Linked DNA regions of Homo sapiens: region 2 is linked to region 1. Evidence: fine-mapped expression QTL. A gene starts in region 1. The other region holds a variant in brackets. All regions are shown on one strand. Distances are from middle to middle.

Region 1 (15,157 bases):
GAAAACTGAAGCACAGAGAGGTTAAGTCATGTATCCAAGGTCAAACAGCTTATAAGCATCTATCTCATCCCAGATGCTCTAGAAAACAGAGCCCAAGGCAAAGTTTATGTCCTAAGGCTTTATTGGAAGTGGAATTCTAGGGCACAAGAATCAGGGAAAAAAAAAAGACATGAGGCAGAAAAGGAAGGAAAGCAAATAAATAGAAGGTAGTTGCATTTCTGAGCTGTTCTTCATTGCACAAGGAAACATAGCTCTTTGCTATGTCATGTAGGTGACCCAGACAGGTTGTGTGTGCTGCACTTTGGACCATTCTGTTGAGGGGAGAAAGCCGGGGAACTTACGGCTGTCTTCCTATCCCCGGTCTCTCCACAGGAGGGAGCCAGTGCAGAGTGAGCCATGAGATTCACTCCCTCATAAGGGAGGTGGAGAAGGGGGATCCTTCCCAGTGGCAGAGCACCCCTCGCCCCTTTGTGTTTAGTTATTCACCCTGTCCTGCATTGCACCCATCATCTCGTGGTCCTTTTTGTCTCTGCTGGTTTCAGTTAGGGGTTCTGCCCCTGGTAATCAGGACTCTCCATTTTACAGAGGAGGAAACTGAGACTCAGAGAGGTGACTTGGCTTGGGTCATGGTGCAAATCCAAAAACCAGTGTGTTCCACCCCTGCCCTATATGGTGCAGATCTGGAGAATACGGGTCACGTGGCCCTTGATCCAGGTCTTTCCAGGTGAGAAAAGAAGGTGCCTCCTCTGCAGAGGTTGCCCAGACATCTGGGTTCCCTCCCTTCCTCCTCCTTCCCTAATCCTCCAAAGGCCTCCATCCTCCGTGGTCTCCATTGCCCACTCCCAGCTCAGTCCTGGCAGGTTAGAATCCTCTATGTGCTACGTTCTTCTGCCCCTCCTCTCAGGAAAGCTCTGCCCTGGTGACCCATAGCTCAGAGAATGTGAGTCCCTGGGAGAGGAGTTTGAATCTCCAAAAATCTCTGGGTTTTATCTATTTTATTTTATTTATTTTTGAGACAGAGTCTCTGTCACCCAGGCTGGAGTGCAGTGGTGCAACCTTGGCTCACTGCAACCTCCACCGCCTGGGTTCAAGCAATTCTCCTGCCTCAGCCTCCCGAGTAGCTTGGACTACAGGCACCCACCACCACGCCTGGCTTATTTTTGTATTTTTAGTAGAGACAGGGCTTTACCATGTTGGTCAGACCGGTCTCGAACTCCTGACCTCAGGTCATCCACCCACCTTGGCCTTCCAAAGTCGGGTTTTATCTAGAGCTGGAGGATACTCTGATCCCAGGACTCACACCCCACCCACTCGATGTAGACAGGGCCAGAGGGGACACAAATGCAGCCCAGAGCCTCAGCGCCCTCTGGAGCACAAGGGTCTCCCAGCCGGGCCCCAGACTCGATGTCCAGAGCACACTGTGGTGGCTGCCGGAGGCCTTCTGGGGGCAGGGGAGGAAGGACGGCTGTTTCTGGGGATGGAGGCAGTGGCGCAAGATCCCAGTCCTGTGGAGACCTGGGTGGGTGGGAGGCGCTCTGGCCAGCAGGGGTCAGCAGAGGCCCATTGTTCTCCTGCTCGTCCTGCACCCAGAGACGACTGCGAGGCCTCAATCCAGAGCCCCAGGTGCAGTATTTTGAAATTTAAAAAGAAAAAAAAAATCGTCTCCTGGTAATACATACGCATGATAACAAAAAAGTGGCCCAGAAAAGCTAATGCTGAAAACATACAGCAATGACCCTCCCACCCAAGCCTTTTTAAAGGCTTTTAAAAACAAAAACAAAACACTTAATATCTCTTTGTTGTGGGAGGCAGGCTGATTGCTTGACCCCAGGAGTTCAAGACCAGCCCGAGCAACATGATGAGACCCCCCCCTCAATCTCTCAAAAAGAAAGAAGAAAAGGTAGTTTCATGTTAATTTCAACATGCATTGGGAAATATCTGTATATATTTATATAACAAGTTCTTCAATTGCTTAGAATAAAGCTATTTCATTTTTAAATTATAAAATGGAGTTGAAAAATAGTAAATAATGTACTATACCCCTGGGGAAACCAAATATGGCAAAACTAATGAAGGTGGTAAAGAAATTGATTGGAAAATAGTGGTCTTGATTTTTTTTTTTTTTTTTTTTAAGAGATGGAGTCTCACTCTGTTGCCCAGGCTGGAGTGCAGTGGCGTGATCTTGGCTCACTGCAACTTCCGCCTCCCGGCTTCTAGCAATTCTCCTGCCTCAGCCTCCTGAGTAGCTGGGATTACAGGTGCACAGCACCACGCCAGCTAATTTTTTGTATTTTAGTAGAGATGGGGTTTCACTGTGTTGCCCAGGCTGGTCTCGAACTCCTGAGCTCAGGCAGTCAACCTGCCTCAGCTTCCCAAAGTGCTAGGCATGAGCCACCACACCCAGCCAATTCTTGAAGTTGAAAACCAGTGAGGGCAGCAATCACTTCGATGACAGTAGAGGCTGGTGCAGAGGCATTTGGCCTTACACGCATAGCAGGCACAAACTTCCTCAATCGACAAACTCAGGTGGGCAAAACTGCAGTTTTATTTTCTGTAACTCAATGGAAAAAAAATTTTTTTTACAGCTCTCCACCCTTCCTCCTAATGGCAGGACATTTAATCTGTTGGTTTTGAGAGACAGGACCAGCTGGATTTCCTAGGCCGACTGAGAATCCCTAAGCCTAGCTGGGAAGATGGCCACATCCACCTTTAAACACGGGGCTTGCAACTTAGCTCATACCTGACCAATCAGGTAATAAAGAGAGCTCATTAAAATGCTAATTAGGCAAAAACAGGAGGTAAAGAAATAGCCAATCATCTATTGCCTGAGAGCACAGCAGGAGGAACGACAATCGGGATATAAACCCAGGCATTCCAGCTGGCAACTGGCTACCCACTTTGGGTCTCCTCCCTTTGTATGGGAGCTCTGTTTTCACTCTACTAAATCTTGCAACTGGTGGGGCACGGTGGCTTACGCCTGTAATCCCAGCACTTTGGGAGCCTGAGGCGGGCAGATCACGAGGTCAGGAGATCGAGACCATCCTGGCTGACATGGTGAAACCCAGTCACTAATAAAAATACAAAAAAATTAGCTGGGCATGGTGGCGGGCTCCTGTAGTCCCAGCTACTCGGGAGGCTGAGTTGGAGAATGGTGTGAACCTGAGGAGGTGGAGCTTGCAGTGAGCCTAGGTCACACCACTGCACTCCAGCCTGGGCGACAGAGCAAGACTCCATCTCAAAAAAAAAAAAAAAAAATCTTGCAATTCTCTTCTGGTCCATGTTTGTTACCGCTCGAGCTGAGCTTTTGCTCGCCGTCCACCACTGCTGTTTGCCGCTGTCGCAGACCCGCTGCTGACTGCCATCCGTCTGGATCCGGCAGGGTGTCCACTGTGCTCCTGATCCAATGAGGCACCCATTGCCGCTCCCGATCCGGCTAAAGGCTTGCCATTGTTCCTGCACAGCTAGGTGCCCAGGTTTGTCCTAATCCAGCTGAACGCTAGTCACTGGGTTCCACGGTTCTCTTCCGTGATCCACGGCTTCTAATAGAGCGATAACACTCACCACATGGCCCAAGATTCCATTCCTTGGAATCCATGAGGCCAAGAACCCCAGGTCAGAGAACACAAGGCTTGCCACCATCTTGGAAGCGGCCCGCCACCATCTTGGGAGCTCTGGGAGCAAGGACCCCCCGACCCAATAAGAGTTTCGCAAAAACTCGGTCATTTTCAAGTTTAAACTTAGTCAAGTCCTAGCGTCCCATTTCTAGGAATTTATCCTAGAGATAGACTAGCTCAAGTACGAACCACGCAAGGATAAGATTATTCATCACAGCTTCATCTGTAACAGCAAAAGACTGAAAACAACCTAAATGTTCATCCTACAGAGCTGTTGAAATGCATCTCGGGCCAGCCCTTCCATGGAATGCTGTACCTACCCCACAAAAAGAGAACCAGGAAGTTCTCCAGGCAAAAATATGAAAAGTTCTCCAGCAAATGTTGTCAAGTATAAGAAGACACGAAACTGTGTATGCCATATGTTAGCATTTGTATATATCCAAGATATTTCTAGAATGATGCAAAAAAGAAATTTTTAACAGTGGTGGCTCTGGAGAAAAGAAATGAGTGAAGGATGGTGGGGAGAGGGACAGAAAAGTGGGAGGAAAATTTAATTTTTACTATGAAGCCCTTTGTACTTTTTAAAACATTGTATTGAGGTGAAATTCACATAACATTAAATTCACCATTTTAAAGTGTAGGATTCATGGCTGGGCATGGTGGCTCACACCTATAATCCCAGTACCTTGGGAGGCTGAGACAGGAGGATCCTTTGAGGCTAGGAGTTCAAGACTAGCCTGGGAAACATAGCAAGACCTTGTCTCTCCAAAAAAAATTTAAAAATTAGCCAGGCATGGTGATACATGCCTGTAGCCCCAGCCACTCAGGAGGCTGAGGTGGGAGGATCACTGGAGCCTGGGAGTTTGAGGCTGCAGCGAGCTACGGTCGCACCACTGCGTTCCAGCCTAAGCAACAGAATGAGATCCTGTCTCAAAAAAAAAAAGTGTACAATTCAGTGGCATTTAGTACATTCACGGTGCTGTGCAACCATCATCTCTATCTAGATTCAAAACATGTTCATCACCCCAAAAGGAGACCCCATACCCATCAAGCAGTTAGTCCCCTTTGTACATTTTCATGTTCCACTGTATCAATCAGGGTTCTTTCTGCAAGAGATGGCCCCTTAAAAGTGGTAGGTGAAGAAAATGAAGGGACAGGTGAGGACAGTGTTAAGGGAGCCACAGGGGATGGTGAGGCAGCTGCAGGGAGGTAGACACTTCTGACCTGAAGGAGCTGGGGAGGAACTGTTCCCCCTGAGGCCAGAGCTGGCTGGAGGGGCTGCTGCTGCCAAAAGTGTGGCCAGCCGGGAGGGAAGGAGAGGAATAAAAACTCCAACCTTTCTTTCTCTCTACCTTCTGCTGTCCTGCCACCACCTGGCATTGGCCTGACAACCAGAGGCCAGAGGCCGGGAGCCCAAGGGAGGCTCACACAGGGCAGCTCTGGGGACAGAACCAGGGGAGAGAGTAGAGAGGGAATCTGGACATAACTGGCATATTGCTTGTATTTATTTTTCAAAATGAAATGAACCATTTAAAAAGTTCAGCCAAATCAGACTCCACTACAGCCTGACCTTTTCAGCACCATGTCCCAGCCTTGAGCTTCTGTTGATATATTGCCTTTGTCCTGGTTCCCAGGTGGGGTCAGCCCTCCTCGCAGTGACTGCAGAATGACCTTGTTCCTATCAGCCTCTGTTGCCAGCCCACCAACTTTCTCCTCCAGCAGCCACCTGACCCTCAGTTCACTGCCTGCCCTGGCGAGAGGGTGTGCCGGGCCTTTTTGCTTTTGGTTCCTTGAAGCCATCTTTTCTCTGTGGCCCGCGCTGAGCACTCTGGGGCCCTGTCGCTTTCTTGGGCCACCTCAGGTCCCTGATATGCTCAGACCTGGAAGATCTGCCCAAGGGAGGTCTTCTTAAGGCCCTCCCCAGGGCCTTGCTTCTGTTTGGACTCTCTTCCCCTTCCTGGTTCCCTGGATCTATAAGAATCTGAGGGATGGGGAAGGAAGGGGAGTTGGGAATGAACAACTTACACATTTTTCCGAACCTTCCCAGGCTTTCATATTGACCAAGGCTTTTGAACTTCAGAGCTGAGCATTCTATGTCTTTTTCTCTGATTATGATTCTCCTCGGGTGGGGAGACACTGACTTGTCACTTACAGTGGTGACTCATTCGATCCCTCCAATCAGCCCATGGGCAAAGGACTCCCCATCACCTTCTCACGTCCAGTTGGAGCTGGTGGCCACTTTGGCCCACCTCAGGCCATCACCCTCATGATTCAAGCAGTTAAAACTGAGGCCAGGAGAGGGCCGAGATCTGCCCAAGATCGTGGTTGAGGGCGTGTCAGTGGGAGATTCAGGCCTTGCAGCTAGACCCCAGACGACCTGCTCAGTGTACCTTCAACAGCATTAGGAAGGCAGCATTTGGGGGCCTGTGGCCTGTGCCCTGAGTTTGTTAGAAGGCAGCCCAGCTTTTTCTCAGTCACCTGCCTTCACCAGACAGCATCACCTGTGGCCCAACTGGACCTATTTCTTCTTGGGGACATCTCATAGGTATCCCCACTAACACCTCCTGTACACAATGTATATGGATTTTAATTGCGTCCCCCAGCAAATTCATGTCTACCCAGAGCCTCAGAATGTGATCTTGTTTGAAAATAGGGTCTCTGCAGATATAGTTAAGATGAGGTTCTTTGGCATCAGGGAAGGCCCTACTCCAATGACTGGTGTCCATGTAAGAAGAGAAAATAGGAACATAGACTGCTATGGTGGGAAAATTCCCAACAAATTTCATATGTTGGAAACTTAACCTCAAAATTCATATGTTGATTGGAAGTTGAGCCCTTGGGAGGTAATTAGGGTTAGGCAAGGTCATCAGGGCGGGGTCCCATGTTGAAACTGGAAACTTTATAAGAGAAGAAAGACCTGAGCTGGCACCACGCTCTTGCCCTCTCACCATGTGATGCCCTCCACGTTATGATGTAGCAAGAAAGCCCTCACCAGATGCTGGCACCTTAATATTGGACTTCCAGCCTCTAGAGCTTTAAGAAATCAATTTCTTTGTGTGTGTGTGTGTGTGTGTGTGTGTGTGTGTGTGTTTTGGTGTTTTTTTAAATTTGTTTGTTTGTTTTATTTTTGAGGCAGGGTCTCACTCTGGTTGCCCAGGCTGGAGTGCAGTGGTGCAATCATGGCTCACTACAGTCTCAACCTCCCAGGCTTGAGTGATCATCCCACCTCAGCCTCCCAAGTGGCTGGGACCACAGGTGCACACCACGGCGTGGCACCCAGCTAATTCTGTTTTATTTTTTGAAGAGACAAAGTCTTACTATGTTGCCCAGGATGGTCTTGAACTCCTACGCTCAAGCAATCCTCCCACCTTGGCTTCCCAAAGTGCTGGGATTAAAGGCATGAGCCTCCGCACCCGACCTATTTTCGTTATGAATTACCCAGTCTGAGGTATTCAGTGATAGCAACAGAAAATGTACTAAGGCATAGACACAGAGGAAAGACAGCCACGTGAGGACAGAGGCAGAGGCTGGAGAGATGCACATGCAAGCCAAGGAACACCCAGGATGGCCAGTGACCCCCAGCAGCTGGGAGAGAAGCAAAGAAAGAGTCTGCCCACAGCCCCCAGAGGGAGTGTGGCCCTGCGCACATCTTCATTTCCAACTTCTGGCCTCCAGAGCCGTGGGAGAATACATTTCTGTTGTTTGAAGCTATCCAGTTTGTGGAACTTTGTTACAGCAGCCCTGGGGAATGAATACATGGTCTTAGAGGGGAGACTTTTGGTATTCAGAAAAAGGCCTTGTCCTGTGTGAATTTCCCATCTCTTTATGGCTGCCTGAAACCCCCCCGCCCCCCTTAACATGCTTCTTTCCTTTAGAAGAAGGGACAGATCCAGGCTTCTATTCATGTGTCCCTGGAAAGTCACATTCCTCGGTTGCCTCTATCATGTCTTCAGTGCAACTGCTTCTATAGACCATGTGGCGTGGTCTCAGTGTTGGAAATGTCTCCTTCCTTCCCCCGGGGTGGGCTCCCTCCTTGGGTCTCCAGCCTCCATGCAGGACCTGGGGGAGGGGGACTGAGTGGGTGAGATCCCTCCCAGGGCAGCATTCGGCAGACCGCAAGTCAAGGTTGCAGAGTGTATGCAGCCAGGGGTAGCAGCCACTTCAGGATCTGGGTCTGGATTTGTGCTGAGAACCACTATGACCTTTTAAAGCCAGTGAGGAGGTTTTCTGGGGGCCCAGAAGCCCTGAGCCCATTGGCCAGACCTCCTGGGAGAAGCGGAGCGGATTTGCATCAAAAAGAACACTGGCTTCATTGAAATTCTCCTCATCTTGAGAGAAACAAAACCACAAAGAAAAGGAAAGTTTTAATTCTGAGAAACTTCACTGAGGAGCAATTTTTTTTGAGCTTCTAAAAATAGAGAGGAAATGAGCCTCTTTGGGTCACTCTAGTTGCCGCCTCCCCTGCCCCATGCCCACCCCCACTGCTCACTCAAGGCTAGCCTCTCTCAGTGGGTGACTGAGCTGTCTTCAGTGGAAGCCCGAGGCAGATGCCACGCAATTCTGGAGCTGGATACGGCTGCCCACACGGGGACCCCAGCATGCTGGACAGCAGAGAGACCCCACAGGAGAGCCGGCAGGACATGATTGTGAGGACCACCCAAGAAAAATTGAAAACCAGGTAAGTCATTGGTTGGGTTTCTGCACACTGCACCTGTGGGCCGAGTTCTAGACTTTGCTCTGCTGTGTGAACTTGGGCAAGCTGCTTCTCTCTCTGAGCCTCAGTTTCTTCACCTGGGAAATGAAGGGAAGGATCTGGGCGATCCGTAAGATGGAAGAACTGGTCATTTGGAGGGCTACTTAGCATGGCTAAGAAAGGCTCATCAAAGAATGAGGCACATCCCAGGGGTATGAGCTGGGGCTGCAGTTGGAGACCAGTTGGATCTCAGTTGGATGGAGGAGGAATTTTTCAGTCAAGAATGTTTCCCTGTCTCCTCAAGGGGGACTTTTGCCTGCGGGGGTCAAAGACAGATAAGTTTTGGTGGGGACCCAGAGGTTCCCGCTCCAGTTTGCTGCGTGACCTTGGCAAGTGCCTTTGCCCTCCGTGGGCTGTAGCTTCCCTGTCTGAATATGAGTGCAGTGGCTGAGGTTTCCCTAAAGCCCTTCCACTGTATATATTCCAGTAATCTGTGATTTAGAGGAAGTGGATTCAACGTATCAGGCATTCACCAATGCCCACCCTGGCCCAGGCCCTGTCCATCCAGGGAGTAGGGGATCCTGAGAAGATGAGACTCAGTCCCAGCCCTGGGATGCCCTGGCCAGAAGGCAGGAAGAAGGCAGGCGCACGCGCACACGCACACACACGGAACTCCAGGACCCCAACATCTGTGATTTGTGTCCAGGAGGGGCGCAGGCGAAGGGGCAGAGAGAAGGAGGTTTCTAACTGGGGCGCCTGAGATGGACCTTGACGGTCAGAGTGGAGCCAAGAGCAGTGGGCAGAGAGAACGACCTAACAAAGCAAGACAGGAAGTTTGGGGATGGGAGAGGTCTGGGTGGCGGAAGCATAGAACTGGGGAGGACAGGGGCTAAATACCAGGGTCCAAGTCCTCTGTAGTAATGGGGAGGAATTGCCAGTGTCTGAGCTACCAAGACTACAGCCCCTGTCCTGATGGAAGGTTATGGGGAAGGAAGATAGAGGGAAATGGGAACAGATGTTAATGCGCCTCAGAGATGCAGAGGCCCCTCCGAGGGCTGGCATCTGGGCCCTGCCCTGGGTCTCCAGAGAACCCTGCTAATCCAAAGTGGACTCCTGTTCTTCCAGAAGCAGGGACTCTTCCCTGCAAAGCCTCCAAGAGCATGAGGGCAAGCCCCTCCCTGGGCATAGGTCAGGTGCACAGAGGGTCAAGGGCCCCTGGAAGAAAGCTGGACTGACTTCCTCACCCAAGGGCAGATTCAGGATCTCCTCTGGGCCCCGGTGTCCTGGCACCTCCCCTCCTCCCTGGGGTCTGTGGGCTCAGAGAGCAGGAAGGCCAGGCGAGATGCTCAGAGGAGCACATCGAAATATGTCCAGAGGCCATGCATGATGGCTCATGCCTGTAATCCCAGCACTTTGGGAGGCTGAGTCGGGTGGATCACCCAAGGTCAGGAGTTCTGAGACCAGCCTGCCCAATGTGATGAAACTCTGTCTCTACTAAAAATACAAACAGCCAGGTGGTGGTACGTGCCTGTAATCCCAGCTACTCAGGAGGCTGAGGCAGGAGAATTGCTTGAACCCGGGAGGTGGAAATTGCAGTGAGTCAAGATCGTGCCACTGCACTCCAGCCTGGGCCACGAGAGCAAAAGTCCTTCTCAAAAAAAAAAAAAAGAAGAAAAAGAAATAAATGTGCCCAGAGCAGGGGTAGACAGGCATGAGGACAGCCAGGGCCAGGGGAGTCTTTGAAAACAAAATCAAGGTCTGCAGGATCTCAGGGTCTTCTGCTCCCTGTGAGTGAGGGGCCAAGTGGGGCTCAGGGCCACAGGAGCCTGTGTCTCAGGCCTGTGGTGAAAAGGGGTGGCAGAGGGTCCTGTGTGCCCTGCAAAGCTCACAGAGGACTGGGCTTGTTTTGCAGACATCACTGAAGGAAAGTAGGCAAACTTGAGGCAGAACCCTAGGCTTGTGCAGAGAAGGACTCCCTCCTGAAAGGGTAAATGGGTCTTGGGACCCCGTAGGGAAAGAGAAAGGCTAAAAACCCAAGAGTTGGAGTGTCAGTTCTACTACTTTCTTGCTGAGTGACTTTGGATACATTGTTTAACCTTTCTGAGCCTCAATAGCATCCTCTGTACAAATAAATATACAACGCCTGAACTTCATTGACATTGCAGAAAAATTGGGTGGATTCCATCAGCTAATGTGTATGAAAATGTTTTCAAAGCATAAGAGTTACCCATCACAGGCATAGTAACTCTCATAGCAACACTCTTAGCAGCAGGCTGGAGGTCACATGCCTTGGGTTCCAGTCCAGCTCTGCTCCTAACCCATTCTGTGACCCTTGGCAAGATACCTTCTCTGAGCCTCAGTTTCCCCATCTGTCAAACAGGGAAGCTAAACCTGCTCTGACATTCTTGCAGAGCAGCTGTGAGAAAAGAACTTAATTCTTGTAAAACATTGTTCTAAAGTCAGAGAGAGCCAGGTGCAGTGGCTCATGCCTGTAATTCTAGCACTTTAGGAGGCCAAGGAAGGAAGATTGCTTGAGTGCAGGAGTTCAAGACCAGTCTGGGCAACAAAGCAAGACCTTGTCTCTGCTAAAAATTTAAAAATTGGCCAGGCATGATAGTGTGCACCTGTAGTCCCACCTACTCAGGAGGCTGAGGTGGGAGGATCGCTTGAGCCCAGGAGTGTGAGGCTGCAATGAGCTATTAACCACTGTACTCTAGCCTGGACTACAGGGCAAGACTCTGTCTCAAAAAAATAATAAAAATAAAAAATAGGCTAGGCACAGTGGCTCACACCTGTAATCCTGGCACTTTGGTAGGACAAAATGGGTGGATTGTTTAAGCCCAGGAGTTCGAGACCAGCCTGGGTAACATGTTGAAACCCTGTCTGTACAAAAAATACAAAAATTTGCTTAAAAAAATACAAAAAAGCTGAGCACAGTGGCTCACACCTGTAATCCCCGTACTTTGGGAGGCCGAGGTGGGCAGATCACCTGAGGTCAGGAGTTCGAGACCAGCCTGACCCACATGGAGAAACCCCGTCTCTACTAAAAAAATACAAAAAAAAAAAAATTAGCCAGGCGTGGTGGCGCATGCCTATAATCCCAGCTACTTGAGAGGCTGAGGCAGGAGAACTGCTTGAATCTGGGAGGCAGAGGTTGCCGTGAGCTGAGATCGTGCCATTGCACTCCAGCCTGGGCAACAAGAATAAAACTCCGTCTCAAAAAAAGAAAAAAAAATTAGCCAGATGTGGTGGCACATACCTGTGGTCCCAGCTACTCAGAAGGCTGACGTGGGAAAATCAATTGAGCCCGGGAGGTCAAGCCATGATGGCACCACTGCACTCCACCTGGGTGACACAGCAAGACCCTGTCTCAAAAACTAGATAAATAAGGCAGAGAGATCATTGTTGTGACCATTGTGATGCCCCTTTCTGCTTCTCTGCTCCTCTGGGCCAACTCCAGGAGGGAAGGTGTATTAGTCTGTTTTCCCGCTGCTGATAAAGACATACCTGAGACGGGGAAGTTTACAAAAGAAAGAAGTTTATTGGACTTACAGTTCCATGTGGCTGAGGTGGCCTTACAATCATGGCAGAAGACGAAAGGCACATCTCACATGGCAGCAGACAAGACGAGAGCTTGAGCAGAAAAACTCCCCCTTATAATAATCCTCAGATCTTGTGCGACTTACTGTAACGAGAACAGCACGGGAAGGACCTGCCCCCATGATGCAATTACCTCCCACCTGGTCTGTCTCACAACACATGGGAATTCCAGATGAGATTTGGGTGGGGACACAGCCAGACCATATCAGAAGGGCTCTATCTCAGTCCTGCCCGTTTGCCCTGACCTTGTGGCCATGGTGGCTGCTCCTGGGGAAAGGCGGGTCTGCATTCCTCCATAGCCTGAGAGGGGCTTATCTTCCCCCTGCTTCCCAGTGTTGCAGAGGGGAAGACAGGAGGTGGAAGAAAGGGGAGGCTGAGAGCCCGAGGAGGGCTTGCACCCTGGCCTGACCCACGAGAGTTCCCTTCCCTGCCACACAAGTTGCAGGGCTGGATCCCAGTGACTGGGGCAGGTGTCCGGAGGAAACAGCCAGGCCAGGGCCAGGAGAGGCAAAACCCGTGGGGTCTGAGCTAACACTGGCCCTGCTCTGGCAGCTTGTGTTCTGTGCCCTTGAGGCTGTGGCTGTAGACCATGCCCTCCATCAGGGACACCCCTTGAGCCTGCCCAGGGCCTGGGTCCTGACCCTGGGAAGCCCTCTGTCCAGTGGAGACACCGGTCTCCCTGAGCCTAAGGAAGCCCATTGTGGAGGAAGGGCTTGGAAGGAACCTCAGAAGAGGACAGTCCATCCTGTGTTTGAAAGGCTGTGGATGCCCGGATGGCAAGCAGGGCGCTGTGCTGACCAAAGGCATGATTGTGAAGATGTTACGGGTGGCCATGAGACTGGTCAGGTTGGGGACCGGCTAACTCCTGGGCCTAGAGAGGCTGACGTGGCCAGACTAAGGGCAGCCAGGCTCAAAGAAGGAGGCAGACAGGAACCCTGGGAGGGGTGCAAGCAGCAGAAGCCTGGGGAGAGCCTGGTTTGGGGTTTGTGAATCTAGCAGCAGTGAGTACAGGCTGGACTAGGGGTGAGGTGGAGGCAGGAGGCCAGGACTTGGGAGCTCCAAGGGTCCCATCTGGCCCAGGGAGGGCTGTCAGGCTCTGAAGTGACCACACTCACTCTGGGCTCCTAGCTGACTCTCCCGGCGCTGCCTACCCAAAGACTGGGTGCAGAGAGGAGCCCCCTAAGAGCCAGGGATGTGGAACGGTCGCAGGAGGCTGCTACAAGCCCCATGAGCAAGGCTGTTCCCACTGACAGAGCTTTCCCAGGATGACAGAGAGTGCGCTCTGCCTCTCTGGGGTGTGCTAGCCTACGAGGGGCAATCGTAAGGCGAATGTCACTGAAAGAACACAAGTGTCCTTAAACATGGACTATCTGGGCTTTCTAGTGCTGAAATTCTTCCCACTCCCACTGCCCACTTCCCATTATGTAAAAAACACAGTTGTTTCATGTTTTTGTTTCTTTACTGTTTTTCTTTGTTTTTGTTAAGAATGCATTCATTTATTCAAAATTGTTTATTGTAGAATAATCAGGCATTGCGCTAAGCACTGAAGAATATAACAAAACAAAAACAAGTCTCTACCTTAAGGAGTTTGCATGCTTGCAGGGGAGACAGACATTAACAAATAATTATACAATTAAACTGTAATTGTGACAGGTGCCATGAATGAATAAAAAAAAAAAAAGGGAATATAATCAATGCCACTGAATTATACACTTAAAAACATTTCAAATGGAAAATTTTATGTTATGTGTATTTTACCACAATACAAACATTTTTTTAAAATGTCGGTAATTAAAAAAAATAGAATATAACGAAGATCTGACTTGGTCTTGAGGGTTGGTGCAGGCTCTCCTGGTAAAGCAACATTTAAACTGAGACATGAAACAGGAGTAGGAGTTGGCTAGGGGAAGAACTTTCTAGGAAATGGGCACAGCATGTGCAAAGGCCCCGAGGTGGGATGGAGCTTGTAGTGTTCAAGAGACTAAAAGCCAGTGGGAACAGGGCAGATTTGGGACTATCATGTAAAAGCCACAGGAAATCAAGGTGCTGGTGTCAAGAGCCCAAGATCAAAGGGGTCAGGCACATCCATGGAAAGCGTGAGTCTCTAGGGCAAACCAACCCTGGTCCTAGACTTCTGAGTACGGATCTGGATAACTTCCGAATGCAAGTCCGCCCAAGCCAGCGGTAGTCCTCTCAGGAGCTGCAGAGATTTTAGCCAGGGGCAGCAGAGCTCAAACTGACCTGAAGTCAGGATCTGGGCCCAAAGCTAACCCACTGTCTCCAGGCAAGCCCCTGAATGGCAGAGTACAAGGCAAGCAGGTTTTTTAGGTCACTAAGTCCAACCCACTGTATTACAACATTCACATATTATCAATCTACTCTGACCTGATTACCTCTAGGGAAGGGGAACTCACTACTTACCTCTTCAGCTCCGCAAAAGCACAGTTTCATCTAGGGCCAGTGGTGGTAGAAAAAAACCCTATCTCACACTGGGTCCTGTGAGAGACCCCTGGATCCCAGCTCTGGCCTCCTACCCAGACAATTCTGGCTCCTTGGAAAGGAGCCTGTGAGGAACACTTTAGAACAGGGCTGGGAAGGTGCTTTGGAAACTGTAAAGGTTGTGACCATGTGAAGGACATCTAGGGCCTAGCTCAGACTCTGGCCCCGAGCAGCTGTAAAATAAGAATTTAGATGTCAGCTGGGTGTGGAGGTGCATGCATCTATAATCCCAGCTACTCAGGAGGCTAAGGCAAGAGATTAGTCAATTAATCAATCTCCACCCTCACTTTCCCATAAGTAACCACTGTTCTGAACAGCCAATGTTCCAGGTGTTCTTGAGGATGGCATGCTTGGGATCACACAGAATGTTACTTGTCTGGCTCCTTGCACTCATCGAAATGTTTGTGAGATTGATCAGTATTGCCAAGTGTCTCAGTAGTTCATTCGTCTGTACGTTTCAGTAGAATTCCATTGTGTGGCTATACTACAATTTTTTTTATCCATTAATCTATTGATGGGCATTTGAGTTGTTTCCAGTTTGAGGATTTTATGAGTAAAGCTGCTATGAAATTCTTGTATAAGGTGTTTTTGTGGACATATGTTCTCATTTTCTTGGGTAAATCCCTAGGAATAGAATTACTGGATCAGAAGATAGGTGTGTGCTTAAAGAAGCTGCCAGAAGTTCCCACATCTTTGTCAACAGTGGGTATTGTTACTCTTTTTAGTTTCATTCTGGTGGGTGAATAGTGAT
Region 2 (15,157 bases), 91 kb after region 1:
CGAGTAGCTGGGATTACAGGCGTGCGCCACCACGCCCAGCAAATTTTTGTATTTTTAGTAGAGATGGGGTTTCGCCATGTTGGCCAGGCTGGTCTTGAACTCCCGACCTCAAGTGATCCGCCCACTTTGGCCTCCCAAAGTGCTAGAATTACAGGCATGAGCCACCATGCCTGGCCACAACCTGAAATGGAAACTCAACAGAGGAACTGTCCTGATTGAAACCGGCATCCAGCTCAGCACCTCCACCATCCTGGGGTCAGCCTCTGAGCCACCTTCTGCTCCAATCCCTAAAGTGAGAAGCTGGCCCAGAAGTCAAATGACTCTGCCAAAGGTCACACAGGGAGTGCATGTCAGAGAACCTCATCTTCTGACTCCACAACCCAACACTTTCTGAATACCTACTATGAGGGTTTTTTCATGCAGATCACACTAAAGGCAAAACAGATTTACCAGCACAATCATTATCAAGTGTTGCTTTAGTGCCTCACTGTGAAGGCAAATGTACCTACCAAAGATGAATTGGGTGTTAAATGTAAGTTCAGAGATTAAAGGACTGAGTTCAGTTTTCACAGTGACACAGAAGTTGCTTTACTTTTAGGAGCAAATGTGACATAAGAGTTATCATCACAAGCAAATCTGGGTCTGAAGAGGGTGACAAAGTAGAATCTAGTTATTGAACAAAAAAACCAGTTAATGATGCCCATGAAAACCACTGTCTGTTGGAGACAGATAAACATATTGATAAGAAAGCTTCAGATTTTTGTTTTCCTTCTGTACATACCAAGTGCTTTCACATACATTATTTTATTTAATACTCAAACAATTCTGTGATGTAAGTATAGATATTCACAGATGGGCATATTAAGGCTTAGAGATGTTTAGTAATTTGCTTAGGGTCACACAGCCAATCAGTGGCATTGCTAGGATTTAAATCTGAGACTCCTAAATTCCAGTACAGAGATCTTTTCCTTAAATAACAGTGCATCTCTGGACCTCTCTTTAAACCGAAAAAATGGGAGAAAAGTAGTATCAAACTTACAGAAAAACGTTAAATTGTTTATAGATTTCTAGGGGACCACCCTTTCATAGCAACAGGAGACTTGAGGCCTGATGGCCTGTACCATCATTTGCTATGTGACCTTGGGAAATGGGAACCAAGACACCTAGGTTCCTCTCCCTGCTCTGACACCGACCTCCTGTGTGACCTTGAGCAAATTCTTCTTCAGGCACAGGTTAGTTCCACTGAGAAGCTACGGAACTGCATAGATGATCTGAAACCCTTTCCAGCTCTGGCATCTGAGCTGTCAAGGAGAGCTAAAGCGCTCCAGATTGCAGGATTCCCACCAATGAAAGGTAAAAGGAAGGCTCTGCTGGTCTCTCTCTCCGAAGGTTCAGACGGTAATTCCGAGGTGTAAGATGCCCTATCCTATGAAGGGGAAATAGCTACAAGAGCACTAGAGGTCTGACTGGGAAGAGCGCCAAAGGGAAAACAATCTGATAGGGAAAAGGGCCCCCGGATTCTCTCACCTGGGAAAACCTCCCAAGCTCAACGCCAGTGCCCGTGGCACCTGCGGTTCCCCGGCCAAGGGCCGCGCAGACAGCGGATGAGAGGTGTGGGCAGTGCTGAGGGGATCAGTCCCGCAGCAGGGCCGCAGCCGGGGAAGCGGCCCGGATGGCGGAGCCGGGACAGAGGCTCCCGTGACCTTCCCGGGCTCGGCGCGAAGCCTGGGCTCTGGCCTGGGCGGATGCGGGTGACGGCAGCCGGGTCTCGGCAGGAGCAGGGCCGGCGCCCCCCCGCCTTGACCTTGACGCCGTCCCCGCCTCTGCGCTGCTGACCCGGCCCGGGGCGGCCCATACACTGCGAGCCGGCCACGGAGCGCGGGGCACGGGCGACCAGGACCGGCTCCCAAGCTGTCCCCGCGGGCAGCCACCGCCTCCCTGTCTGGCCCACGCGCCCGCCCACACCCGGCACGCGACCGGCTCTCCTGCCAGCCCTCGCGGCCTGCCTGCCTGCCACACGCCGGCCTGCCAGCGCTCACCTTAGAGATCCACGCGGGCCCAGCCATCGCTTCCCCTCCTGGCTCCGCAGCAACAGCCGCAGCGGCAGTGCGCAAGCGCCCACCCCACGCTCGGAGCCCGCCCCTGCACGGCCACGCCCCCTGAACGCCCCGCCCCCTAGACCGCCTCAGGATTGCTTCGCGCTCGCTCGCTGCCCCGCCCCTGGACATTCCGCTGGCGAATCGCCGGGCTCGTCTCTCTGTGACTGGCCTGGCTGAGCGCCAGGCGAACCCGGAAACTGAGGGGCCGGCATCTCCGGGAAAGCTTCTTCCTCCCCTCCCTGGTTCATTGACTCGCTGTTAAGGTAAGACGTTTGTTCCACACCTACTAGGTGCTGATTAATGTTCTAGGATCTTGGGGATATAGCGCTCCTCATAGAATTTACAATCCCGTGGAGAAAGACACATAATTTTCTTATTCCACAAATTTTGATTTTTTTTTTTTTTTTGAGACCGGGTCTCACTCTGTCGCCCAGGCTGGAGTGCAGTAGCGCGAACAGGTTCACTACAAAGCCTCGACCTCCTGGGATCAAGTAATTACTAAGCCCAGCCCAACTTTGTTTTTTCTTTTCTTTTTCTTTTTTTTTTTTTTTTTTTTTCTCCGTAGAGATGGGGCCTCGCTATGTTGCTCAGGCTGGTCTGGAACTCCAGAGTTCAAGCGATCTGCTTGCCCCAGGCTCACAAAGTGAGCCACTGCGACTGGCCGAATTTTATTTTTTACCAGCTTTATTGAGGTATAATGTATATATAGTAACATTTACTCACTGTAAGTGTACAGTTTGATGATTTTTAGTAAATGTAAACAGTTGCACAACCATCACCACAATCCAGTTTTTGAGCATATGAAAATGTTCCTTGTGTCCGTTTATAGTCAATCCCGCTCCTGTCCTCAATCCCAGGCAACTACTAATCTGTCTATTTAGCTCAACAAATATTTCTGAGGGTCAACTAGACACCAGGCACTGTTTTAAGTGCTGGGGCTTAGTGTCCAGTAGGAAAGACAGGCTTCAATCAAGTGTCACACACATGTCATTAAAACTGTTGCGCCAAGAAGCAAAAGAGCAAGGAGCTATGGCAAGGCAAAATCAGGCAACCTGATTCAAACCTAACCTGGAGGTCAGGGAATGCTTCTCTGAAGAAATAACATCCATACTCACCTTTCCCCTTGTCCTCTCCCTGTCCATCACAAACTCCTGAGTTCCTGCTGATGGCCAGGCCTCTAGCTGGGTGCCAGGGGAGGTCAGGTGTTTAAACCAGGTCTCTGCTACCCTACCCTGGGAAGAGTTCTATCCAGAGAGGAGCTGCCTACCCACCCAGAGAGGTGATGAGTGCAGTAGAGAAGTGATCCCAAGAGCTTTTATGACCTAAATAATAAACTGCAGCTAAGTCTGTGGCCTTGTCAGGAAGGAGGGCTTTTATCAACCCCTTTCCATTGGGCCCCTTCCCCTCATCAGGCCCTGGCAGTCCCATCCTGAAGTGTTCTCCCACAGTTCCTCCATCCCCAATGTCACCCCTGCCCTCCTTCGGGCCAGACCACCTCAGGCCCAGGCTCTTACAACAGCCTCTTCACCTGCCAACCTGCCCTCCCCTTCAGGCACAGCTCTGACCAGGGCTCGCCCCGGCTCTGAAACCTCCTGGCTCTCCCTTGCACTCTCCTCTCACACCACTGTCTTTTTTCAGCCTGATTTCCCACCACTCCTTCCAGCCCCAAAGACCTGGAGCGCCTGCCAACTAGGACTGCTGGCCAGCCCCCAAATGCTTCCCATATTTTACCTCTCCGTGCCTATGGTCGTGCCATTCCCTCAGCCTCAATGCCCTCTTGCCCCACTTCTACTGGCTGAAATTCTAGCTCCTTGTCAAGACTCAGCTTACATGTTGGGAAGTAGTAAAAGTTGTAAAAGCCCCCAAGACCCACGAATGTGTCCCCCTCTCCTTACTCAGAGCCCTCTAGCACTTGGCTCCCACCTCTCCTGGGAAACATCACATTCTCTTCTGCTGTGTGCCATTGAGAAGATAAGCTTTGGGCCAGGCGTGGTGACTCACGCCTGTAATCCCAACACTTTGGGTGGCCGACGCAGGTGGATCACTTGAAGTCAGGAGTTGGAGACCAGCCTGGCCAACATGGCAAAACCCTGTCTCTACTAAAAATACAAAAATTAGTTGGGCGTGTTGGCACATGCCTATAATCCCAGTGACTCAGGAGACTGAGGCATCAGAATCGCTTGAACCCACGAGGCAGAGGTTGCAGTGAGCCGAGATCATGCCACTGCACTCCAGTCTGGGTGACAGAGCGAGACTCTGTCTCAAAAGAGATAGAGAGAAGATATGCCTTAAGTCCAGAGATAATCTTGATGATCTCTTATGACGTTGTTTCTGGAACAGAGACTGGTACACAAGGAATACTTGCTGCTCAGTGATTGTGAAATAAACATTGACTGACTTTGTCCAGTCTTCATTTAATCTTCACAACAACCCTATGAGAAAACTGAAGTACAGCTAGTAAGTGATGATGCTGGCATTCACACTAGGAAGCTTCCTAAGTACTAAGGCAGTTCTCCTAACTGCTGAACTTTCGCTGAGGGCCAGTCCAATCCTACAAAGGCTTCCCAAGCCATTCTCTAGCAAGTGCACTGTGAGAACAAAAAATGAACAAGACCCACTCCTACCCTCCAGATCTAGTGAGGGAGAAACTCAGAAGTCTCAGATGGAAGTTGGGGGGTGATCAAGGAAGATTGCACAATGGAGATGGCATTTGAATCAGTCCTTGAAGAGGTAAAATGTCAGCAGCTGGAGGGACATGCAGGAAACAGAAATGACCTCACCTTGAGCTGAGATCTGTTCCCTGAGTCAGCCCTTGGCTCCAGAAGCCCCAGTCACCATTCCTCGAACATGTTCTAGAGTTCCTCCAAGATGCAGGTCACTCTCCTCTGGAAAAGCCCTTTTTCCTTGTCCCTTGCACTGTGTAGTGCCCAGAGATACCATCAGCAAAGTATGTTTGGACAAGACGGTGGGAAAACTTTGCCACTCAGGAGAAGAATCTAGAAAGTGCACCCTTATCTGTAATAACAAGCACTATCCAATCCAGGTGTGCTTCACTCTAAGGAAAAAAAAAAAGATTTTAAAATCAAGAGGCCAGGTGCGGTGGCTCACTCCTGTAATCGCAGCACTTTGGGAGGCAGAGGTGGGTGGATCGCCTGAGGTCAGGAGTTTGAGACCAGCCTGGCCAATATGGTGAAACCCCATCTCTCCTAAAAGTAACAAAAATTAGCCAGGGGTGGTGGTGTGCATCTGTAGTCCCAGCTACTCAGGACGCTGAGGCAGGAGAATCACTTGAACCTGGGAGGCGGAGATTGCAGTGATCCAAGATCGCACCACTGCACTCCAACCTGGGTGACAGAGCGAGACTCTGTGTCAAATAAATAAATAATAAAATCAAGATAGCAATTTTTAAGTGAATAAATCAGCAAAACAGAATATACATTATTCACATACCAAATGTTTATTTTTTGTTACAAAAGAAATTCATTTCAACAGTTTTCCTACTTTATTTAAAATATTATTTTCATTAAAGATATGATTGGCAAAGGGTTCATCCCTATCTCTAAGTTAGGAAAAGATCCAACAAATTGGTAAAGAAGGTATTAGGACTTTAGTAAATAAATGGGAAAAGGGGACTGGGCGCGGTGGCTCACGCCTGTAATCCCAGCACTTTGGGAGGCAGAGGTGGGTGGATCACGAGGTCCGGAGTTCAAGACCAGCCTGGCCAAGATGGTGAAAGCCTGTCTCTACTAAAAATACAAAAAATTAGCTGGGCGTGGTGGCGGGTACCTGTAATCCCAGCTACAAAGGAGGCTGAGGCAGAGAACTGCTTGAACCTGGGAGGCCGAGGTTGCAGTGAGCCGAGATCGTGCCACTGCACTCCAGCCTGGGCGACAGAGTAAGACTCTGTCTCAAACAAAACAAAACAAAAAACATAGGCCGGGCATGGTGGCTCATTCCTGTAATCCCAGCACTTTTGGAGGCCGAGGCGGGCAGATCACAAGGTCAGGAGGTCAAGACCAGCCTGGTTAACATAGTAAAACCCCCTCTCTACTAAAAATACAAAACTTAGGGAGGCATGGTGGTGCACACCTGTAGTCCCAGCTACTGGGGAGGCTGAGGCAGGAGAATCACTTGAACCTGGGAGGTGGAAGTTGCAGTGAGGCGAGATCACACCACTGCACTCCAGCCTGGGTGACTGAGTAAGACTCCGTCTCGGGAAAAAAAAAAACAAAACAAAACGGGAAAAGGACCTGAATAATCAATTCACAGCCAAATAAACTTTTAAATAAATGTTCAATCTTAACAATAGTCAAATGCATGCAAATTTCTAAAAAAAATTATTTTTATTTAAAAATATTAATAAAATGCAATGCCTTATACCATCCAATTTATGGCGCACTGCTTGGCTGGCCTTATACATTTCCACAATCTCTTTGGAAAACAGTTTAGCAATGTGTCTTAAGAGAGACATTAACTGTTCTTACTCTTTCACCTAGTAAATCCATTCCTGAGAATTAAACTCTTGGGGAAAAAAATCCAGAAAGAAAAAGCCATCAACACAAAGATATTCATTATACAATTATCCTTAATTTTGAAAACTAAAAAGAGAAAAAAGCAGTCTAAATGATTAACAGAAGAAATGGTTATGTAATTTAGGGGAAATGAATGAAGTGGACCATCATGCAGCCTTCAAAAGTGATCAATGGCCTGGCATGGTGGTTCACATCTGCAATCCCAGCACTTTGGGAGGCCGAGGTGATCACTTGAGGCCAGGAGTTGAAGACCAGCCTGGGCAACATAGCAAGACATAGTCTCTACAAAATATAAAAATTTAGCCAGGCATGGTGGCATGTACCTGTAGTCCCAGCCACTTGGGAGGCTGAGGTGGAAGGCTCACTTGAGCCCAGGAGTTAGAGGCTACAGTGAGCCATGATTGCACCACTGCACTCCAGCCTGGATGACAGAGGAAGACCTTATCTCTAAAAATAAAATTAAAAAATAATTTTTTTTTTTGAGATGGAGTCTGGCTCTGTCGCCCAGGCTGGAGTGCAGTGGCGCTGTCTTGGCTCACTGCAAGCTCCGCCTCCTGGGTTCACGCCATTCTCCTGCGTTCATGCCATTCTCCTGCCTCAGCCTCCCAAGTAGCTGGAACTACAGGCGCCCGCCACCATGCTCAGCTAATTTTTTGTATTTTTAGTAGAGACAGGGTTTCACCATGTTAGCCAGGGTGGTCTTGATCTCCTGACCTCGTGATCCGCCTGCCTCGGCCTCCCAAGTGCTGGGATTACAGGCATGAGCGACCGCGCCTGGCCAAAAAAAACATTTTTAAAGTGAGTATTATGAAGACTTTAGCATCTTGATAAATGTTTATGGTTGAATGTTCAGAAAAAAATAAAAATTTAAACTATTATCTATGTTCTCTTATAACTTCTTTTTATATGTGAACAAAGAGTAGAAGGAAACCTGCTCCCTCCCACAGAATTCCCCCACCCAATAAAATTCAACTCCAGCCTTCTAGTTGCTGAGGCCAAAAGCCTGAAGATGAGCTGTTTTCAAAATAGGTTCAGTTTTGGACACTTTTCCCCTTGGCAGCTGCTGCCACCAGGGTCCAAGTCAGAGTTACCTCTTGCCTGAACCAACACAGTGGCCCCCAAACTGGCTTCCCTACTTCTACCCCTTAAAATCCATCTCCTGCCAGAGGGATTGTGTTCAAACATAAGACAGATACATCCTTCTCTGCCCAAAGCTGCCAGCGACATCCTGTCTCTCTCCAAGTAAAAGGCAATGCCCTGGCAGTGCCCCATAAAGCCCTAAAGGGTCTAGTCCTGCTAGCCCCTCTCTGAGCTTCTCCCCCACCACTGTCTCCCTTGAAGCCGACCTACCTCCTTGCTGTTCTTTAATCGGCCATGCTTCCTCCCACTGCAGGGCCTTTGCACTTACTGCTCCCAATGCCTGGAATGCTTTTCCATATGGCTTGTTCCATCAGCCACTCCCCATCTCCCCTCTCCCAGACCCTGGCAACCACCAATCTCTTTTACATCCCAATGTATTCACCTACTCTGGGCATTTCATATAAACGGAGTCATAAAATATCTGGTCTCTTGTGTCTGGCTTCTTTCATTTAGCATGATGTTTTCAAGACTTATCCATATCATAGCATGCATCAGTCCTTCATTCCTCATGAC[G/A]GTCAAGTTATATTCCATCACATGAATAGACCACATTTTATTCATACGTTCGTCAGTTGATGGCCATTTGAGTTGTTTTCGCTATTATGAATGATGCTGCTATGAACATAGGTTTTCTTTCTGATTTTCTTTATTGTTCTTGAAAGGTTACTTGTCAATAAAAATTGTGTTCCTAAAAAGTCCCTATACCTCAACTTTCTAGCAGCACATGTATTGCCTAAAATGCGCAACACCTCTACTGCCTGCCCCGTCATATGTCATTAAAGCCCAGAATTGCACCCTTCCCTAGAGGAGTGAAAAGATGTCTGAGATGAGTCTTCAATCAGGAGATTTTTCCCTTTGTCACGCCTCCCTGTTAATAAACAGGAGGCATGGCAGAGCCTAGCGGGAAGGAGCTGGGCCCTGGGGAAACTTGCTCCCAAATGTTCCACTGCAGTGACTTCAGGCCAAAAAAAGTTGCTCTGAATACATGTGTTTCCACAGATGGGTTTTACTGCGTGGTCCCTCCAGCTATCATTGCCGAGCCACCTACTATGTCAGGATGGGGCAGGAAGTCAGAGGGGCTAGAGATGAAGGATTTCTATCCCCTACCTTGGAGGAGCTCCTAGCCTCTGAGGGCCTGGGCAGGTACACAGATCACCACAGGAGGAGGGAGACACCTCATGGGCAGCTCTCACTGGTCTATTCATCCTGCATGGAGAGACTCAGCAATGATTACTGACTAAAGAGATGAACTGTTACTACGACTTTGCACTTTCCACTCTTCTGTGGCCTTGAGAGAAATCAAGGCCCACACAGCCCTGGGCCTCAGGCCTCTCCACCTAGAAATTCCAGGGCTCTCCAAACTTTCACAATGAAAACTGAACTCATTACTCTCCCCAAAACCTGCCCTCTCTCCTGTGTTCCCATCTCAGCAGAGGGCCTCATCACATACCTAGGTGGTTACCAAACCAGAGTATCAGCCTCAATTCCTTCATCACTCATTCAGAAAAGATTCTTTGTGCATCTGTGATATTCCAGGCCCTATGCTAGGCACAAAGAAGAATGGAGTAACCCAGGGGAGGCGAAGTCCCTGCCTCCTGAACCTTAGAGTGGTTCTCAATGCTGCCAGATGCTCCCTTTTTATAACAAATATTTTGAATATCCTCTTTACCATACTGAAACGAAATTCATGGATAATCTAAACCACTTATACACATAATGAAAAAACAAAATCAATATAATGCTGCTACTGTAATATGAAAGAGAAATAAAAGGAATACTGTAATAAAATAATGGGTTTCAATACATAAATGCTCAGGCCTAAACTCTAAAAGACATTATGAAGCAGTCACATGCTTGCACCTACTTATAACAAGTAAGTTTGGATTTGAGAGAGGTATGATAATATTCAGGCCACAGTTTTTATCTTTGACATTTAAAAATAAGAGCTAAAAAAGTAGATGTTAATAGACCATGAATCACAGTGATGGTGACGTTCACAAATGCAGATGAATACAGGTGTGTTGTATGGGGTCAAGCAAAATTCTTTTTCTTTCTTTTTTTTGAGACAGGGTCAAGCAATCCTCCTACTTCAGCCTCCCAAGTAGCTGGGAATGCAGTCATGAGCCACCACTCCCAGCTAACTTTTTAATTTTTTGTAGAGATAGGGTCTTGCTATGTTGCTCAGGCTAGTCTGGAACTCCTGGGCTCAAGCAATCCTCCCGCCTCAGCCTCCTAAAGTGTTGGGATTACAGGCATGAGCTGCTGCACCAGGCCACATCAAGCAAAATTCTTAGTTGCCACAGGCATCTGGGTTAATTTCTTCTTTCTCAATCACAAGTCACGTTGCCATCTCCGATGTTACCTCCAAAATGGTGATCGAGTCTTGTTAAAGTTTTGAACAAAGTAAATTTTAGTCTTCCCTTGATTTGCATTCCTGGATAACTGAACATATGTTAAGATCACACAAAAAGGAGTTTATTTATAAAACAGAGTTGGGTTCCAAGCTCAGGTCATTATAAACAGGTTTGTTTCCTACAGGAGTATCTGGTTGATCTCCTCAAGGTCCTGCAGGACATGAGACATTCTCCAGTGGGCAGGATTGTCCCGGCATTACAGAACATCAGCATCCCCAAAACCCAGGCACTAAGTGGAAATAGTACCCTCTTGTCATTGCATCCACAAAACACCCATACAGCTCAAAACATTCCTTAGGGAGCAGTATCCCTCCCATACGAACACTGATCTAGAGGGTAAATATTCAAACAGTTGATCCCAATCCACTGAAACAAATGCTGTAATATGGATTCCAGGGTCTGTGGGTCCTCTAAGCCTGGGGTACCTCAAGAACTAGGGGAGATGAGAGTGTCATGGGGGTTAAAGCAGAGATTGTTACAAGCAGACAAGACTTAAGGGAGGCCAATTTTCCAAACAGAAAGAAGGGAAGGAAAAGGAGTGCCAGGCAGAAAGGATACCAGGAACAAAGGGCCAGGTGGGAAGAAGTGGGGAAAGGCAGGATCCAGACCACATGCACCTATCATGGCAAGCAGTTTGGACTCTGTCCTGGGGAGGTAATGGCACACCATCCAAGTCACCATGTGCTTTACTCATAAGTGCATTATTTTGCTTAATGAATGTTCACCAAAAGATTTGTCCTCCAGAGGCCCATTTGGGGATAGCATCTCTGGAGCCAGCCTAGAAATAAGGAAATAAATGCAATCAGGGGTGTTGATCAAATCAAATTGACCTGACTTATCTCCCATCTGTTTATACTGCAGGGACTGGCTTTGCTCTATCTGCCTAAGTCCATGGGTCAAGTTCAGAGGTTGCTATAAAAAGTGATAAAACTTCCCTCAAAGCAGATACTGACTCCCAGTCCCTCTCTCTTCCTGGAGTAGCTGAGCCTTGGGCTGCAAGGTTAATGGAGTAAATACTTGAAAGCCTATTCTCATAGTCTCTGGGGTGAACAAAGGAACTAGCTGCCCCTTTCAAAGGGACAACATTTATTCTCAGTATAGGTGCCAGGGCAATAGTGGAAGATCCTCCAGGCAAACCTGGGTCCCAGTTCTCACATTGACACTCTCCAGATGTGTGAATTTGACCTTCCATTCTCTCACCTGTAAAATGGAGTTATTAACACTCCCACGGAGAATTCAGAAGACTCTCTGATTAATGTGACACCTTATAACATCTTTAAAGATGTTTGAGTAAGCTGAAGCTAATAGAATGACAAAAGACTTTGATATACTTTGGATATTTGTCCCCGCCCAAATCTCATGTTGAAGTGTAATCCCCAATGCTAGAGGTGGGGCCTGGTGGAAGGTGTTTGGGGCCAGGTCCCCCATGGCTTGGTGCTGTCTTTGTGATAGTGAGTTATAGTGCGATCTGGTCATTTAAAAGTGTATGGCACCTCCCCCTTGCTCCTGCTTTCCACCTGTGTTACGCAAGCTGCTGTTTCACCTTCTGCCGAGAATAAAAGCTTCCTGAGGCCTCATCAGAAGCCATGTTTCCTGCACAGCCTGCAGAACCATGAACCAATTAAACCTCTTTATAAATTACCCAGTCTCAGGTATTTCTTTATAGCAACACAAGAATGGTTGCGGTCACACAGACCTGCTGAAGCTCCCATTCTCCTGGGCTGATCAGATCAGAAGATGCAGGGAAACTGATTAAATGAGAACCCTCCCTACACAAACTTCCCAACAATCCTCCAAACACAGAAATGAACATCTAATCATTCAGGGCCTGCCTCTGAGGAACCCATAGTAGCCTGGGAGAGCCACAAAGATAGCTCTGGAAGACAGTTCATATTATGACAAGATGCTTCAGAGACATCAATGTGACCTGAGTTGATAGAGCTTGGGAAGGGTTAAGGGATTCCCAGGTAGTTTCTTTTGTTCCTTTTGTGTAAACCATGATGCCAGGCCTCTACAGACACAGGGACCCCAGCTCACTGGGATTCTCCCAGAGGTCTTGCAGAACCACCTTAAGTGTGATGAAGAGCTCCTCTTGATGATGAAAGCAGCCTGTTCTTAAAAAGTATGAGGATCTGGCCAGTTGCGGTGGCTCACGCCTGTAATCCCAGCACTTTGGGAGGCCGAGGTGGGCGGATCACCTGAGGTAAGGAGTTCAAGACCAGCTTGGCCAACATGGTGAAACCCTAGCTCTACAAAAAAAAAAAATACAAAAAAAATACAAAAAAAAAAAAAAATTAGCTGGGCATGGTGGTGGGCGCCTGTAGTCCTAGCTACTCAGGAGGCTGAGGCATAAGAATTGCTTGAACCTGAGAGGCCAAGGTTGCAGTGAGCCGAGATTACATCACTACACTCCAGCCTGGGTGGCAGAGTGAGACTCCATCTCAAAAAAAAAGTATGAGGATCTAAGACATTTGGGGTGCTATTTTCACCCTACGGACACCCCCACCTTCCTCTCTGATACTGAAAGCTTGGCAAGTGTAATCACCCGATGGGTTCTTCCTACCCACTGCAAAGACAAAACCATTATATGTTGGCTTAGTTAACAGACTTTTATGAAAAATAATCATATATTTGAAGACAAAAATATTTATTGAGAAGAGTGGCATTGTTTTACATGCTTGCAAATGTCTTTAGAGCTTGGCTTAATAGAAAACTGCTCGGGCTGGGCACAGTGGCTCACACCTGTAATCCCAGCACTTTGGGAGGCTGAGGCAGGCGGATCACGAGGTCAGGAGATCGAGACCATCCTGGCTAACATGGTGAAACCCTGTGTCTACTAAAAATACAAAAAAATTAGCCGGGCGGGAGTCTGAGGCAGGAGAATGGCATGAACCCGGGAGGCAGAGCTTGCAGGGAGCAGAGATCACACCACTGCACTCCAGCCTGGGTGACAGAGCGAGACTCTGTCTCAAAAAAACAAAAACAAAATAGAAAACTGCTGGATTCTCACATTTGCTTCTTCATTCAACCTGTTGCAATATCACATACCCATATAACTTCTGGAAATCTTCACTCTACACTTGTGAGAAAATGAGAATGAAAAAGGCAAATAATGTCTCAGTATTATTATGAGATATTGTTGCCCTTGCAGACTCTCTGAAAAGATCCCAGAGACCCCAGGAGACCCACGATCACACTTTGAGAGAGGCCATTCTAGAAGCAGTTGGGACTTTACCCAGAAGCCCACACTCCAGAGACCCTTCCACAAGGGCTTCAGCTGTCTTGATGCCATTCCAGCAGCAGAGGGTCTGTTCATTAGCAAAATGGATGGCTGAAATAATTGTCCATTGATCAAATGAGTGGTATTTTAGATATGTGAAGGGTTGTCCAAGTACCTCTGCCCTTACACAGACAGACAGGACACAAAAACCTAGGGAGTTTTGATGGGGTCTAGGTCTTAGGAGTCCGTCTGGTCAGGTTCAAGCTTCTGAGTAAGAATGCAGTTGCCTGATCCCAAATTGAAGGTTGTTCAAATCTTGCTCCTTAAATATTGTTTGCAACTTCCTTGAATGAAATCCCTCCCCCCTATTTTCTGAGACAGAGTCTCACTCTGTTGCTCAGGCTGGAGTGCAGTGGTGCAATCTCAGCTCACTGCGGCCTCAACCCCTCAGGCTCAAGTGATCTTCCCACCTCAGCCTCCTGAGTAGTTGGGACTACAGGCGTGTGCCACCACGTCCAGCTATTTTTTGTATTTTTTTTAGAGATGGGGTTCTCACTATGTTGCCCAGGCTGGTCTCAAACTCCTGAGCTCAAGTGATCCTCCTGCCTCAGCCTCCCAAGGTACTGGGATTATAGGCATGAGCACTGCACCCAGCCTGAACTAAATCTTTCAAGAGGAAAGTTTATTGAAATATGCAAAAGGTCAGGGAGCTAGGCCTTCATTGAGCTCATAGAGAAGGTTATATGACTGTTGGGGACCTGCTTGCTGATAAGTGATGGTACAAGGTGTGGACTTCAGTCTGAGACTTGCTTGCCTCAGACCCCCTCATAGCAAGGTTTGTGGAAGGAAACACAACACCCCTACCTACCACTCATTACTGGAGATTACTGAGATCTGCAGTAAAATGAACCTAGTTGTGGATGAATTGGTTTAGGTCATTTCATGATAGATACGGCCATAACAGGAGAGAGGTGAGGGGGGCGTGGACCACAGTGATAGCAATGGAGTGCTAAGAAGTGGCTGGCTTCTAGATATGACTGGCTGTGCTAATGGACTGAGGGGTCTGAGGGAAGGAGAGAAATCAAGGGTGCCTCCAAAGATGTCAAAGGCATCCAAGAGGTGGGTGGGACACGATCCAGAAGAAGCAGATTTGTGGAGGAAATTGACCCCCTCCTCCCTCAACAACAGGACAGTCGCCATCCAGCTGGGGTCCCATTTGAGCCATCCAGTAACTTCTCACATCCAGAGTAGCTTCTGGGGAAGGCTCTAGGGCAGGTCAGTCTCCCGGAAGAGAGAAAGGGGTTTCATTCTGTTGGCTCTGCGCTAAACGACTGGTCACTAAATCCTCCAGTAAGAAAATCTTTTTCAAGTCAGAATATTTGGGGATCTAGTTGATTAAATGTATGAACAGGTCCAGGAAAATGTACTCTTTTAAAGGGTGTTGATTTTACATTTGCTAAGACCATGTGCTAGACCCTGGGAGATTCCTCTGTGTCTGGGGATACAGACGAACATGTGGTCCCAGCCCTGGTCCCAGCCCTCCTGTTTCTTAGTGTTTGAGAGGGAAAAATAACCCTCCTCAGGACAAAAAAAAAAACAGTCCCAGGGTGTGTATTTATTTATCCACCAAATACTCATTAAGAACCTACTATGTGCAAAATGCTAGAGAAACAGAGACAAGCTGTTCAGTGCTAGGATATAGGCCAGGTTAAACAAGGGGTTGCAGGGTATGTGTGTGTGAGAGAGAGAGGGAGA

What was found.
Region 2: its variant is fine-mapped to the expression of ACSBG1 in whole blood (INTERVAL, PIP 0.96).

The regions. Positions count from the first base shown.
Region 1 is chr15:78,227,506-78,242,662 of GRCh38, reverse strand. It overlaps ACSBG1 (acyl-CoA synthetase bubblegum family member 1), which reads left to right and starts at 8,098. Exons shown (of 14, transcript NM_015162.5): 1 at 8,098-8,292. The coding sequence starts at 8,162.
Region 2 is chr15:78,136,313-78,151,469 of GRCh38, reverse strand. It overlaps LOC124903534 (a long non-coding RNA gene), which reads left to right and starts at 2,251. Exons shown (of 2, transcript XR_007064725.1): 1 at 2,251-2,362; 2 at 3,738-8,191. IDH3A (isocitrate dehydrogenase (NAD(+)) 3 catalytic subunit alpha) reads right to left here and starts at 2,108. Exons shown (of 11, transcript NM_005530.3): 1 at 2,040-2,108. The coding sequence starts at 2,066. RefSeq lists a silencer at 1,569-2,148. The variant G/A (reference allele first, on the strand shown) is at 8,285.